2 separate regions of the Homo sapiens genome follow, and region 2 is linked to region 1. A link means that fine-mapping ties the variant in region 1 to the expression of a gene that starts in the linked region. Tissue or cell type: whole blood. Region 1 holds a variant in brackets; the other region holds the start of a gene. All regions are shown on one strand. Distances are between the middles of the regions.

Region 1 (8,103 bases):
ATGTGGATTGCTGTAATAGCTTTTTTAATGGTTTCCCTATTTTCAGCCTTGTCTCTCTCCAGGCAACTCTCCAGATGTCAATAAGACTGACCCCTAAAAAATACAAATCTGCTCATGTTAAATTCCTATGCAAAACCCTATATGATTTCCTATTGCCCTTCTGATCAATTTGAAATTCTCTAGCGTGGCTCGCAAGCCCTTTCAAGATTTTGCACAGTTAACTTTATAGGCCAGTGTCCTTCTAATCCACACCACCCACTTAATCAGTAGAATTTACTCCTATTGACTTTCAGTCTTTCTACATTACAACCATAAAAAGGAGAAATAATCCCAAGGATGTTGTACATTGTTTCCTACACTGAGAAAACTATTTTTCCTTTCTTTGCCTTTTCTACCATCTTGTCCCTAATTATTTCTCCTCCTTAAGAGGCTATCATAGGTTTGTTTTCTTTTTAGACCCTTAGGTCTGATTTAGATATCCCACTCATGTGTTTTATTGTATACTGAATTTCCCCAAGGATTTCACATGGAATTATATTTGCTGATTTTTCTAATCACTCCCCATGGAATTTGCCCTAAAAATGGTCCCAACATTCCATGCGTCTATTCCAATAAATTTTCCATTAAACCATCCTCATCTATTTTTATATTTCTAGAGGAAATTCCTTGTGCTACCTGCAAACCCATTTTCTGAAATAGTGTTTAAAGGTGCTTTAAATATTTCAGATCCCACAGGAAATATATAAATTTAGAGAGTATATATAAAGCATATCTTTGAAGTATATTTCCTCTACAAAAAATACAAAAATGACAGAAGCAGAAAATAAAGTTCTGTCTTTCACCAATTACAGGTAGCCAAATGTGTCATAGAATTGCAAGTGCTGTTAAGCTTCAAATTATGCATTTTTATAAAAAGGGGTTAATGGGATTTTATACTAAGTTATAAAGTCACCTAGAAGGACAACATTTTTAAGCTTCTATTTTACTGTCAATGACATCCATTTTAATTTTGCTTAGCTTAGAAATTGAAACAAAAAGGAAAGTTTTTTTTTTTCTAATTGCTCACATTGCAAAGTTTAGATTATGAAAAATCAAGCTGTGTTCTCTCTGGTTCAGTATCACCTCAAGTAATAAAGTTTCTGCAATTAGCACTTTACTGACAGTTCGGCTGATGATGCATGAGGCAGGGTGAAGCCAGCTCACTCTTCCATAGCTGTAATATCACAGCGTAGCTAAGGGAAGTGTAATTTTAAAAGAAAAGCCAGCAGATATGTCTTGAAAACACCCAGGGAGCTAATATGCTGAATAAGAAGGTGACATTTTTTACGTAGTTAACTTTTCTGAGTACATCCAAACCATGGCTGCGACTCATGGTTATCAGCATTTTATTCTTAGCTAATGGAGCTTAAATCTTTTGGGTTCTTACAACTGCAAATACAATTACCATTTTATGATTTGTAATTTGTATGTGCTTCATAACTGTCTCCAAATTAACCTGGATCAATTTAACTAAAATTAAAATACTTCCTAAAGTTTGTACCACCTCTATTAAACTGGGCTATTGCAAAACAAATTTGTTTTCTTTCCTACCCCTACGTGGAGACAAAATAATCCTGTGCATATCAATCCAATGCAACAGAATATATTATTAAATGTAAACTAGAGAGCTCTGTGATAAATATTTGAAAATTAACTATTTTTACTTATGCTTTACTAACCTAATTTTTATCTACAAATGTTACCATAAAGACTCTGTAAAATTCATTCCACGTTAAGACAGTCTCTTAATAGTCCCCCAATTTATTTTTACTCTAAATTAGTTGTCTTTTATGTATCTACCCATAACACTTTATTATAACACTTACCTCACTGAAATACAGGTGGTCCTGGAATTTCATTTGACTTTCAGACTGTCTTCTTTTCCTTTATTTTACACCTGTAAAATTGACTTTCATACTCCAGAGAGTACCTTTATGTGAAGTCACAATGAATTTGAAACATCCTAAGGCTCTGCCTCCCAGCCAACAGTTCATCTGGCTCTTTTTGGGATTCATTTATGTTGAAGTGCAAAGCTTCATGGTTGCATAATATTCTCAGAAGCATATATAACATTAATCCACCTTTTTAAAACTTCCTCCAAAATTAAGGACAATACACCTACCAGAAAAAAATCTTCAAATTTAAGCAGACTCCATGGGAAAGGGTGGAAATATTATGCTCAGGAACTCAGTGCAGTGTGTATTGCACTAACAAGAAAGCCACTTGAAGTTGGTTTGGCAAGTTTTAGTACTTTGCTGTTCTAAGGTCTTCCCAACATGAGTGCCGATATGTTTCTTCCCTTTTAGCCAGAGAAATATGTCAGACTCGGAGAGCTGTGAAAAGTATTTGAAAATTGACTATTTTTACTCATGCTTTGCTAACCTATTTTTAATTTACATGCATTATTGCAAGAACTCTGTTTTATAATTCACTCCAAAATATTCACTCCAAGAATTCAGCTCACTTCTCTTTTTTTGTTTAGCTATTTTCAATGCCTATTCAAGAAAGGCTGCTGAAAATCACTAATCATTGCTATGCCCTACACTGTCCAACACACATGTCATAGTAGGAAATTGCTTAGCTTTGCAGCTTCAATTTCTAAAAATAAATGTGTGTACTGCTTTATCAATTTTTGAAAGTTCAATTTGCAAATATACTCTTTTAACTTAGAAAGAGCTTATCTTTTCTGCTTCCTGTAAACGTTTCTTATAGATAGCTAAGAATAAACTTTAAATAGAAGTTTAATGTTGATAAAATGTTCTAGGCATTAGGTTTGAAGATTCTTTTTTTTTTATTATTATACTTTAAGTTTTAGGGTACATGTGCACATTGTGCAGGTTAGTTACATATGTATACATGTGCCATGCTGGTGCACTGCACCCACTAACTCGTCATCTAGCATTAGGTATATCTCCCAATGCTATCCCTCCCCCCTCCCCCCACCCCACAACAGTCCCCAGAGTGTGATATTCCCCTTCTTGTGTCCATGTGATCTCACTGTTCAATTCCCACCTATGAGTGAGAATATGCATTGTTTGGTTTTTTGTTCTTGCGATAGTTTACTGAGAATGATGTTTTCCAATTTCATCCATGTCCCTACAAAGGACATGAACTCATCCTTTTTTATTGCTGCATAGTATTCCATGGTGTATATGTGCCACATTTTCTTAATCCAGTCTATCATTGTTGGACATTTGGGTTGGTTCCAAGTCCTTGCTATTGTGAATAATGCCGCAATAAACATACGTGTGCATGTGTCTTTATAGCAGCATGATTTCTAGTCCTTTGGGTATATACCCAGTAATGGGATGGCTGGGTCAAATGGTATTTCCAGTTCTAGATCCCTGAGGAATCGCCGCACTGACTTCCACAATGGTTGAACTAGTTTACAGTCCCACCAACAATGTAAAAGTGTTCCTATTTCTCCACATCCTCTCCAGCACCTGTTGTTTCCTGACTTTTTAATGATTGCCATTCTAACTGGTGTGAGATGGTATCTCATTGTGGTTTTGATTTGCATTTCTCTGATGGCCAGTGATGACGAGCATTTTTTCATGTGTTTTTTGGCTGCATAAATGTCTTCTTTTGAGAAGTGTCTGTTCATGTCCTTCGCCCGCTTTTTGATGGGGTTGTTTGTTTTTCTCTTGTAAATTTGTTTGAGTTCATTGTAGATTCTGGATATTAGCCCTTTGTCAGATGAGTAGGTTGCAAAAATTTTCTCCCATTTTGTAGGTTGCCTGTTCACTCTGATGGTAGTTTCTTTTGCTGTGCAGAAGCTCTTTAGTTTAATTAGATCCCATTTGTCAATTTTGGCTTTTGTTGCCATTGCTTTTGGTGTTTTAGACATGAAGTCCTTGCCCATGCCTATGTCCTGAATGGTAAAGCCTAGGTTTTCTTCTAGGGTTTTTATGGTTTTAGGTCTAACGTTTAAGTCTTTAATCCATCTTGAATTGATTTTTGTATAAGGTGTAAGGAAGGGATCCAGTTTCAGCTTTCTACATATGGCTAGCCAGTTTTCCCAGCACCATTTATTAAATAGGGAATCCTTTCCCCATTGCTTGTTTTTCTCAGGTTTGTCAAAGATCAGATAGTTGTAGATATGCGGCGTTATTTCTGAGGGCTCTGTTCTGTTCCATTGATCTATATCTCTGTTTTGGTACCAGTACCACGCTGTTTTGGTTACTGTAGCATTGTAGTATAGTTTGAAGTCAGGTAGTGTGATGCCTCCAGCTTTGTTCTTTTGGCTCAGGATTGACTTGGCGATGCGGGCTCTTTTTTGGTTCCATATGAACTTTAAAGTAGTTTTTTCCAATTCTGTGAAGAAAGGCATCGGTAGCTTGATGGGGATGGCATTGAATCTGTAAATTACCTTGGGCAGTATGGCCATTTTCACCATATTGATTCTTCCTACCCATGAGCATGGAATGTTCTTCCATTTTGTTTGTATCCTCTTTTATTTCCTTGAGCAGTGGTTTGTAGTTCTCCTTGAAGAGGTCCTTCACATCCCTTGTAAGTTGGATTCCTAGGTATTTTATTCTCTTTGAAGCAATTGTGAATGGGAATTCACTCATGATTTGGCTCTCTGTTTGTCTGTTGTTGGTGTATAAGAATGCTTGTGATTTTTGTACGTTGATTTTGTATCCTGAGACTTTGCTGAAGTTGCTTATCAGCTTAAGGAGATTTTGTGCTGAGACAATGGGGTTTTCTAGATATACAATCATGTC[G/A]TCTGCAAAGAGGGACAATTTGACCCCATCTCTTTTGAGTTAAATTCATTATTTATCTAGGTATTGCCTATTATAAAATAATAGAGACTTCAAGTGCTTTATATATAACCATTAGAAAGATTTGTGCATAAGCCAGTCTCCATAACATAACTGAGATGGGGTTTCACCGTGTTAGCCAGGATGGTCTCAAACTCCTGACCTCGTGATCCGCCTGCCTCAGCCTCCCAAAGAGCTGGGATTACAGGCATGAGCCACCGTGCCTGGCCTTATTTTTTATTTTATTTTTAAAATTTTTAAATTTTTTGGCCAGGTGCAGTGGTTCATTGCTGTAATCCCAGCACTTTGGGAGGCCGAGGTGGGTGTTTTGGGTTTTTATTTTTGTATATATATAAAGGACCCCAAAGGATATGTGTTTCCAATATGATTTCCCTTCCATAATCTGTAACATAAAATAAGGTATACGATGTTCATGGTTAACTTCACCAGTGAGCTTTGTAAAATGTTATCCCCCTATCCCTTTTCCATATCTCCCAATTCTGATCATGTTGCCATTACAGGGGCCAGTGTCATTCAAAGATGTGGCTGTGGATTTCACCCAGGAGGAGTGGCGGCAACTGGACCCTGATGAGAAGATAACATACGGGGATGTGATGTTGGAGAACTACAGCCATCTAGTTTCCTTGGGTGAGGATAGCTTGCTTTCTGAATGCTCTCAGTTGAATGGGGTTTTATGCTTGAGTTTGAAGAAATAAGTGACAACACCACTTAATTCCTTGTGGGCACTAGCTGCAGTGTTTATATTATTCTTCATTGAAAGGTTCTATCTTTGATAAGGTAAAAAATGGAGCATTTCTGTTATGCAGCTTATGAGGTGGCAACATCTTGTACTTCAGAGATTCTGAAGCCGAGCAACTTGCCCAAGTCCTTCTTCTTTTCCCATTAACAAGATATGATATCACCAAGCCAAACGTCATCATTAAGTTGGAGCAGGGAGAGGAGCTGTGGATAACGGGAGGTGAATTTCCATGTCAACATAGTCCAGGTAAGTTAGTAGAGTATCAAATGTTAAAAAATGCTCATCCCAGACCTTTGGGAGTGACTAAAGAGTTGTTTATATGTACTCGGTACCCTCAGTGACACCTCCCAACCCCCAAATATCACTTTCCTTCCCGCACACATACATGAACTCTTTTGTTTATTTTATATTTGATTTACATTGGTAGGGATTTTTTCATTCTAACCTATACTGGGGACCCATTCACTTCCTCTTCCTCCAGCATTATCGGTCACTTATTTACTCCCTCACCATTAGAGAATTGTTGTGGGCTGTTTGTTTGTACAATTATCCTGCCTCAGCCTCCCAAGTAGCTGGGATTACAGGCATGCACCACCATGCCCGGCTACTTTTGTATTTTTAGTAGAGATTGGGGTTTCACCATGTTGGCCAGACTGGTCTTGAACTCCTGACCTCAGGTGATCTGCTCGCCTTGGCCTCCCAAAGTGCTGGGATTATAAGCGTGAGCCACCGTGCCCAGCCTGAATTGTAACACTTTAAAATGGTATGTGGACTGGGTGTGGTGGCTCATGCCTGTAATCCCAGCACCTTGGGAGGCTGAGGTAGGAGGATCGCTTGAGACCAGGAGTTCAAGACCAGTCTGGCAACACAGTGAGATCCCATCTCTACAAAAAAAAAATAAAAAAGTAGCCTGAGTCGGGCCTGGCACAGTGCAGGAGAATTGCTTGAACCCGGTAGGCAGAGGTTTCAATGAGCCGAGATCACGCCATTGCACCCCAGCTTGCCAGCTTAGGCAACAAGAGTGAAACTCCATCCAAAAAAAAAAAAGAACTGTAGGCAGGATAGTTTCATCTACCTGTCTTCATGTGTTCAGTGACTCTCTCTTCCATCTGCTCTAATGAATTCGAAATAGTCTGGTGAATTTTTCATTTCCATTTCTATACTTTTCTTTTTTTTTTTTTTTGAGATGGAGTTTCGTTCTTGTCACCCAGGCTGGAGTGCAATGGTGCGATCTTGGCTCACTGCAACCTCTGTCTCCTGGGTTCAAGCAATTCTCCTGTCTCAGCCTCTCGAGTAGCTGGGATTACAGGTGCCCGCCACCATGCCTGGCTAATTTTTGTATACTTTTCAGCTTCAGACTTTGATTCCTTTCAATAATTTCTATTTTTTTCCTTTCTTTTTTTCTCTAAGCTTTAGTTTGTCTATAATAAATTCTTTTTTTGAGACAGGGTCTCACTCTGTCACCCAGGCTGGAGTGCAGTGGTGCAATCTTGGCTCACTGCAGCCTTGACTTCTCATGCTCAGGCAATTCTCCCACCTCAGCCTCCCAAGTGGCTGGGACTACAGGCGCATGCCACCACACTTGGCTGATTGTTTGCATTTTTTGTAGAGAGGGGGTTTCGCCATGTTGCTGAGGCTGGTCTTCAAATCCTGGCCCCAGGTGATCTGCCCACCTCAGCCTCCCAAAGTGCTGGAATTACAGGCATGAGCCACTGCCCCTCACCTGTCTATAATATTTTCTATTTCTTTATTGATGTTCTGCATTTGTTGAGACATTGTTCTCCTTGTATCCTTTAACTCTTTATTCATCGTTTCTTTTAGCTTTTTGAGCAGATTTCAGACAGCTGATTTAAAGTCTTTGTCTAGTACTTTCAATGTCTGTGCTTCCTTAAAGACAATTTGTTTCTTTTGTGAATGGGCTGTACTCTCTTAATGTCACTGCATGGTTTGTAATTTTTTTTTGAAAATTGGAGTCAGGCACAGTGACTCACACCTCTAATCCCTTTTCCCCAAAAAAAGAAAAAGTAAAATTAAAAAGAAAAAAAGAGTCCAGGCGTGGTGCCTCACGCCTGTAATCCCAGCACTTTTGGGAGGCCGAGGTGGGCAGATTGCCTGAGGTCAGAAGTTCAGGACCAGTCTGGCCAACATGGTGAAATCCCATCTCTACTAAAAATCCAAAAACAGTCAGACACGGTAGCATGCGCCTATAATCCCAGCTACTCAGGAGGTTGAGGCAGGGGAATTGCTTGAACCAGGGAGGTGGAGGTTGCAGTGAGCCGAGATCGCACCACTGCCCTCCAGTCTGGATGACAGAGCGAAGACTCCGTCTCAAAAAAGGAAATCAGACATTTTGAGTATTATAATGGGGTAACTGGAAATTATTTTATCCTCCCCACCACCCCTGGGTTTGCTTTTGCTGTGGGCTGTAGCTGTTTGTTCAGTGACTTTCTAAACATTTTTGCAAAGTGTGTCTTCTTTTACATGTGCGGTCTCTGAAAGTCTCTCTGCCGTTAGCTTGTGTTCAACTAGTGTTTTAACAGAGAT
Region 2 (8,103 bases), 140 kb after region 1:
CTGCTCTCCTCCCTCCCAGCTCCCTCATGTGTAGTCTCTCTCTCTCTCTTTTCTTTTTTTTTTTTTTTTTTTGAGATGGAGTCTGGCTCTGTCACCCAGGCTGGAGTGCGGTGGTGTGATCTAAGCTCACTGTAACCTTCGCCACCCGGGTTCAAACGATTCTCCTGCCTCAGCCTCCCGAGTAGCTGGGATTACAGGTGCCTGCCACCACACCCGGACAATTTTTGCATTTTTAGTGGAGATGGGGTTTCACCATGTTGCTCAGGCTGGTCTTGAACTTTTGGCCTCCAGTGATCCTCCCACCTCGGCCTCCCAAAGTGCTAGGATTACAGGCATGTGCCACTGCACCCGGCCTCACCTGCAGTCTCTGATCCCTCCTTCCTCCCTTCTAGAACCAATTGGAGGACCACCTCTCCAGGTGGCCACCCTGACTACCCTGGCGTCAGCTTACTAAACCACCAGAGGATCCACAGACAGCAGGTGAGGCCCGGGAGGAGAAGGGCCTTGGCTGAGGACACACTGAAAAGACAGGGCCCGAGTGAGGCGGGACCTCCCGAACCTGTCCTCAGAGGGGCTGCTGGCCCCATCAATGACCCCTGAGGTGCGAGATACTCAGGGTGGGAGTTCCCTGCACAGGCCCTGGGAGGGGCGCTGCCCAGCTCGAAACCACGGGGCTCGGCAAGGTGGCTCACACCTGTAATCCTAATACTTTGGGAGGCCGAGACGGGAGGATCGCTTGAGCCCAGCAGTTCCAGACCAGCCTGGGCAACATAGCAAGTCCCTGTCTCTACCAAAAATAAAATAAACCCCATGGCATGCCTGGAGGGCTTCCAGACACTGGGACCAATTCAACAGAGGGGTTCTGGGTGGGAGAGGGGCCCGAGGGGGTGTCCCCACTCACAAGCGCATGGTAGAGGCTGCCAAGAAGGCCAAGAGTAGGAGGCCGGCCAGAGAAGAGAGGATGGAGGTAATGACGATCATGCTGCCACTTCGCCGCCCTGGCCAGGTGTCGATGGATCCGGGGGTCTTCCCTGCACACACACCAGCTGCTCAGAGGGGCTGCCCCTCGACCCCAGGGCTGGCTGTCATCTCCTCCCTCGCTCCCTCCCCACCCACGCTGGCCTAGCTTCAAGGTCTGGCTGTCTCATATCCCCAGGCGCCCCCCTGATCCCACCCCCCGTCCCTCTTCCTCGGGACGGCACAGCATCTGTTCTCTGCCAGCCTGGACCACAGCCTCCGCCCTGCTCCTACCTTCTAGGCTGCTCCCACCCACGTGCTCATCCACTGCCCTGCTCCCTGGAGCCCAGCAGTCAAGGCCTTCAGATGACAAGACTTCCACCCCACACCCCCTGACCTCTGAAGCCGTCTCCCAGGAGACCCCCACCCCCGACACCTGGGCCGTGGCACTCGAAACTTCTGGGCTTGGTACATTCACGCTTGCCCCTTGGGGTCTGCTCAGAACTCAAGCTGGCTGCCTCCCCAGCCAGCCCCGACCCTGACCCTGACCTCCTCCACACCCTCTTCCTCCCTCCCAGCAGGGGCTGACACAGGCTGACTCCCTACAGGAGGGGGGAGGCTGTCTGTGCCCACAATGTGGCAAACGCTTGCGGATGGGCCGAGATGGTGCCCCTGCCGAGGGGGCTGGCTGGGTGCCCCACTCCCCCAGCATGAGGTTCTGTTGGGGGCTGGGCCCGACTTGGACATGGCCTCCAGGCCCCCAGCCCTGTGGGAGCAGGGGTGTGGCCAGCTCAGCAGAGGCGGCCCAGAGAGATCGTGAGTCCACTGGGGGCAGCGCCCCTCCTGCCCAGCGCTACCTTGGTGGAGAGTGATGGGGTCTGACCACTTGGTCTCAGCCCTGGGTGAGCCCCTGGTGTCCATCAGGAGGAACTTCACCCTGGGGATGGGAGGTGGTGGGGGAGGAGGGGAGAGCTTCAGAGGCTGGGACCACCCTGGGCAGGGCCAAGCCCCAGGCAGCTCCTCTGGGGCCCTCCCATGGATGTGGAGTGGGGGTGCCCGTCAAGAGCAGCAGCCCATGGCCTGGCCCTGCTCTGAGAATCCCCTGAGATGTCTCCAGCCACTTGGCCTGTGCCACCACCCCTCATCCCCCCGAGCAATTGCTCTCCAGACACCAGACCTGGGCCGGGGATGCTGGTTTAGGGGCCCTGGTTCCTAAATGTCACAAGCCAAAAGAGCAGGTGAAGGTGGCTTAGCAGGGCACATGGGGCAGGGGTCACAGGCCTCCCAGAGGGGCAGCAGTAGCCGGGGGCAGGGGGCTCAATCACCAGCAGCCTGAGGACCCAGGGCACCAGGAGCCCCGCAGAGGGCCTCGGTTTGTCTCTTTGCAGGGCTGGGAGCTCTGCAAGGCCTGGGAAGCGGGGAAGGACCTGGCAGGTTGGCATTGAAAAGAGTGGCTGCGGGGGATGGGGCGGGGCATGGAGCTGGAAGGCTGAGCCAGGGTGAGGCAGCGGGGAGGGCAGAGGGTGGACCTGGAGAGTGGGTGAGAGGGCAGAAGGGGGCTGGGCGGAGCGGGGTGCTGTTCCAGCCTCACCACGCCCTGCCTTCCCGGCTTCCCCTGGGCCTGGTCTTCCTGAGGTCACCCCGCCTCCTCCTGTGTCCGGACAGTCCTGACCTGGACACACTGCCTGCTTCCCCATCCCGGCTCCACCCCGATGTTGGCAGGCCACTTGACCTCCTGTGCCTCAGTTTCCTCATCTGTAAGAGCGGGTAGGAGCCACCTCTCCTGCTCCCTGCCTAATACCGACGAGACTGGGTCTGAACTCGGCCCCCGAGTTTCCTGCCAGATCTGCCCGTGGTGGGGGACAGGGGCCTAGACTTTGGGGAAGCTGCCCCCTCCCACCTTGACTAAGATCCCGCCTCCCCAAGGTGCCCACCTGCTCCTCCTGGGCCTTGCCCGGCCCCAGCGGGGGTGAGCACTGTTGCTGACTCTACAGTGGAAGGAGCCCGGGCTTGCAAAGGGGAGGACCGGGGCCGGGGACCCCTCCCTGGAAAGATGCTAGAGAGAGCATCCCTGGTCCCAGCAATGCGTCCGCCCCAAGCACAGCCCCAGTCCCAGGGCTCCGGTGGGGACCACCCACCGATAGGGTCCAGGGCCAGGGAGGGGCGCGTTGCAGAAGGGCTGCTGGTGGCAGCCGTGGTCATGGCCCACCCGCAGCACGGGGGCGCCTCCGCTGCCCGCCATGGGGTCGCCACAGGGCAGCTGGTCCGGAGACAGGGGCAGCGTCATGTAGTGGCCATCGGTCAGCAGCTGTGGGGAGGCCGGAATGTCAGCCAGTGTCTCCGGGTTCTGGAAGCCCCTGGAGGCTGCAGGAGGAGAGAACAGATGGAGGTGGGAGGGGAGAAAGCAGCTTTGTCCTTATGAGTGGGGGTTCTGTGTTCGCCCAGTCTCCAGCCCTGACCCCCCATGCCACCTCCTCCCTCAGGGCCCCCAGAGATAGTCCAGACCCAGTCGACTTTGTTACCCCTGAAGGGGAGCTTCCCTCTGGCCTTTTGTCCCCACCCAGAGCCAGGAGTGGGGAGCAGCGGGCAGTCCCAACCTGCCCAGCCCCAGCCCCAGCCCCATTGCAGTGCACCGGCCCTGCCCCACAGGAGGCCACATCCTCCCAGGTCGCAGCCTCGGTTCCCTGTCCAAAGGAAGAACTACTTGGATTCAGAGAAAGGGTTGCAGAGCCCTTGACAGCTGACAAACCCACCACTAGCACTACTCCCGGGATTTGGTGTTCACTACGTGTGTATTTTTCAATACACATATTACCCCTTTAGATAAAGCCCAATTCATCCACACCTACTCTCCCAAAGGCCCCCACAGGGGCTCAATCATTGAAGGCGCTTGCTGGTGAGGGGCTCCTAGGGCCCACCACTCTCCTCAGCCGTCACCCTCACCCAGGCCCCACAGCAGTCCCCGTACCATTGCTGAAGGCCACCACGAGCCAGACGGTATCGCTGGCGCTGGCAAGCCCATCGAAGACACAGCGCGGCTGCTCCAGGGAGAAGGTGGTGGCTGTGACCTTCCCTTCCAGGTCCCAAGCTGTTATCTGTGGTGTGTAGGGCACCAGCTCTGTGGCCACGGGGGACAAAAGGTGAGCCACGGAGACGGGCGTGGGGGTCCCTGGGGCTGCCTCTCCCAATCGGAGGGGGGCGGGCGCCCAGGGTCCAATCACTCCAGCAGGGCCCCCAGCCCCTTGGGTCTGGCTGGACGCGTCCATCCAGGACCCCCACTCACCCAGGCTCAGGCTGGGCCGGAGACAGTTCAACGCCAGGAGGAGCATCTGCAGCCCTAGGTGAGGCTGCCCCCAGGGTAGCCCCATGACAGCTGCCAGCACCCGGGAGGCTCAGGGGCTGGTCTGGCTGCTTCGGGCTGCACCTCACCCCCAACAGCTTGGCCCTGGAGAAGCTGGTTAATCAGGCTGCCCCAGGGGCTGGAAAGACCTGCAAATGTAAGTGCACCCCACCCCCTTCCTCCCAGGCCAGCCCACAGCAGGGAGGAGCTGGGGGGACTCTGGTGGGAGGCAGGCCAGTATCCAGCCCCACTGCCAGGGCCAAGGGAGAGGGGCCACTGGAACCCCAGATGCCAGCCAGGCCATCCCGGAGCCTGGATTGGGGCCCCTCCCAGTCTCTCCGCCCTGGGGAGGAGGGTCTGGCTTTTGGAAACAGGCTCAGGACCACATGCCTGAGATTCCTGTGCCCCAGGTGCCAGGAGCCTCCCTCTGCCTTCTGTCCCCACCCAGAGTCAGGAGTGGGGAGTAGCAGGCAGCCCCAACCTGCCCAGCCCCATCCCCATCACAGCACGCTGGCCCTGCCCCCCACGAGGCCACATCCTCCCAGTTCGCAGCCTGGGTTCCCTGTCCACAGGAAGAAGAACTTGGATTCAGAGAAAGGGCTGCAGAGCCCTTGACAGCTGACAAGCCCGCCACTTAAACACTACTCCCGGGATTTGGCGCTCACTATGTGTGTATTTTTCAAGACATAACTCACATACCTTCACAACCTTCACAGCTCAGTGGCTTAAATATATATATGTCACCCAGGGAGGTCAGTTCACAGCTAACTGGAGCCTCAAACTCCCAGGTTCAGTTAATCCTCCCACCTCAGCCTTCCCAGTAGCTGGAACCACAGGCACACAACACCATGCTCCGGCTAATTTTTAAAATTTATTTAATTAATTTTTTTTTAAGATGGAGTCTCCTTTGTTGTCCAGGCTGGAGTGCAGTGGCGTGATCTGGGCTCACTGCAACCTCCGCCTCCTGGGTTCAAGCGATTCTCCTGCCTCAGCCTCCCAAGTAGCTGGGATTACAGGCATGTGCCCCACGGCCAGCTAATTTTTGTATTTTTAGTAGGGACGGGGTTTCACCATGTTGGCTTGGCTGGTCTCAAATTCCTGATCTCAAGTGATCCACCCGCCTTGGCCTCCCAAAGTGCTGGGATTACAGGCATGTGCCACCGTGCCTGGCACCCCCGCCAATTTTTTTTTTGTTTTTTTTGAAACGGAGTTTTCACTCTTGTTGCCCAGGCTGGAGTACAATGGCTCGATCTTGGCTCACCGCAACCTCCACCTCCTGGGTTCAAGTGATTCTCCTGCCTCAGCCTCCTGAGTAGCTGGGATTACAGGCATGTGCCACCACACCTGTCTAATTTTGTATTTTTAGTAGAGATAGGGTTTCTCCACGTTGGTGAGGCTGGTCTCGAACTCCTGACCTCAGGTGATCCACCCACCTCAGCCTCCCAAAGCGCTGGGATTGCAGGTGTGAGCCACTGCGCCCGGCTGGCCAATTTTTAAAAATGTATTTTTTATAGAAACAGGATCTTGCTATGTTGCCCAGGCTGATCTCTAACTCCTGGGAGGATCAAGCAAATCTCCTGCCTTGGCCTCCTAAAGTATTGGGATTACAGGCGTGAGCCACCGTGCCTGGCTATTTTTTTTTTTTTTTGAGACATGGAGTCTCACCCTGTCGCCCAGGCTGGAGTGCAATGGCGTGATCTCTGCTCACTGCAACCTCCACCTCCTGGGTTCAAGCAATTCTTCTGCCTCAGCCTCCCTAGTAGCTGGGACTACAGGCACCTACCACCATGCCCAGCTAATTTTTGTATTTTTAGTAGAGATGAGGTTTCACCAACTTGGCCAGGCTGGTCTCGAACGCCTGACCTCGCGATCTACCTGCCTTGGCCTCCCAAAGTGCTGGGATTACAGGCATGAGCCACTGCGCCCAGCTGCTAATTTTTAAAAATATAGTTTTTGAGGCTGGGTGTAGTGACTTACGGCGGTAATCCCAGCACTTTGGGAGGCCGAGGTGGGCAGGTCACTTGAGGTCATGAGTTCGAGACCAGCCTGGCGAACATGGTGAAACCCTGTCTCGACTAAAATTACAAAAATTAGCCGGGTGTGGTGGAACGTGCTTGTAATCCCAAGTACTCGGGAGGCTGAGGCAGGAGAATGACTTGAACCCGGGAGGCGGAGGTTGCAGTGAGCTGAGATCGCACCACCGCACTACAGCGTGGATGACAGAGTGAGACTCTGTCTCAAAAAAAATATAATAAAAATATATTTCTTGTAGAGACAGGGTCTCACTGTGTTGCCCAGCCTGGTCTTGAACTCCTGGCTCAAGGGATCCTCCTGCCTCAGCCTCCCAAAGTGCCCAGATTACAGGCATGAGCCACAGCGCCCAACAGCTTTTAGTATATCAACAAGGTTGTGCAACCATCACCAATTCCAGAACCTTCTTACTTCCCCAAAACGAAACACTACACCCATTAAACGGTAACTCTCCATTCTCCCGTCCCCAGTGACGACTAAGCTACTTCTTGTTTCCATGGTTTTGCCCGTAATGGACATTTCATAGGATGCAGTCACACAACATGTGACCTTTTGTGTCTGGCTTTTGTTACTTTTTCAAGGTTCCTCCTCGACTGTGATTGCTTCATTCCTTTTCACAGTTGAGTAATATTCCATCCTGTGAACGTATCACACTTTCATTCATCAGTGGATGCAGAATTTGTTTTTTTCCACTGTGGGGCTACTGTAAATAATGCTGCCATGAGCATCCGTGCGCAGGCTTCTGTGGGCACATTTTCAATTCTCTTGAGAATGTACCTAGGAGTGGAACTGTGGTCATATGCTAATGCTGCTTTCTGAGGTTCTGTTTGCCAAAGTGGCTGCATTTTACATTCCCAGTAGCAGTGGATGAGGGTCCCATTTCTCGACATCCTCTCCAACACTGCTTTTTGTTTTAGTATAGCCATCGTAATGGGTGTAGTGTGGCATCTCATGGTTTTGTTTTTATATATATTTTTTGAGACGGAGTCTTGCTCTGTCGCCAGGCTGGAGTACAGTGGCGTGATCTCGGCTCACTGCAACCTCTGCCTTCCGGGTTCAAGCAATTCTCCTGCCTCAGCCTCCCAAGTTAGCTGGAATTGTAGGTGCACACCACCATGCCCAGCTAATTTTTGTATTTTTAGTAGAGGGGGTTTCACCACGTTGGCCAGGCTGGTCTCGAACTCCTGACCTTGTGATCCTCCCGCCTCAGCCTCCCAAAGTGCTGGGATGACAGGCCTGAGCCACTGTACCCGGCCAACACTGGGGTCTTCTAGAGAGACCTCACTACCCTTTTTACCCTGGACCAACTTACCATTAGGCACAGTGCCCTGGGCCCACACTATAAGAGCTGACATACATTTTTAATTTCTTTTAAAATCAGAAGGGAAAAAAATGAACCTTTAGGTGAGAGAAAATCCTCTAGTATACATTAATATATTCATCTTTATACCAACATGTTGTAAAATAGGTTTAACAGAGAAAGGGGCTCACCAAGGCCAAAGTGCCTCTGCTTTCCACAGCCATGAATGAGGTGGCCCTACCGTCCCCCTCTGGTCCCAGGCCCAAACTACTCCTCCCGGACAAGCAGCAAGATCTTGACTGGGGATATCTGATCCTCCTTCCAAGAGGAGGAAGAATTAGAACTTTGAGAATGGTGTCAGATCAACCCTGGCCTGGATTCCACCTACCTAGCCAAGCATTCAATCTGTCTCTTTTTATTATGATTTTACAGATGGGATCTTGCTCTGTTGCCCAGGCTGGAGTGCAGTGGTGCA

Evidence for each region. PIP is the estimated chance that this variant, and not a neighbour inherited with it, causes the effect.
Region 2: it holds the start of UPK3B, and the variant in region 1 is fine-mapped to the expression of UPK3B in whole blood (GTEx, PIP 0.94).

The regions. Positions count from the first base shown.
Region 1 is chr7:76,648,100-76,656,202 of GRCh38, reverse strand. No RefSeq gene overlaps it. Among named protein-coding and RNA genes, the nearest start is that of POMZP3, 25 kb to the right of the region's middle. The variant G/A (reference allele first, on the strand shown) is at 4,764.
Region 2 is chr7:76,506,875-76,514,977 of GRCh38, reverse strand. It overlaps UPK3B (uroplakin 3B), which reads right to left and starts at 4,426. Exons shown (of 6, transcript NM_001347684.2): 1 at 4,241-4,426; 2 at 3,926-4,075; 3 at 3,096-3,321; 4 at 1,815-1,894; 5 at 902-1,031. The coding sequence starts at 4,325. LOC124901675 (a long non-coding RNA gene) reads left to right here and starts at 4,245. Exons shown (of 2, transcript XR_007060388.1): 1 at 4,245-4,454; 2 at 4,870-6,797. RefSeq lists enhancers at 1,109-1,758, 1,759-2,410, 2,411-3,062, 3,816-4,388, 4,389-4,961 and a silencer at 5,839-6,044.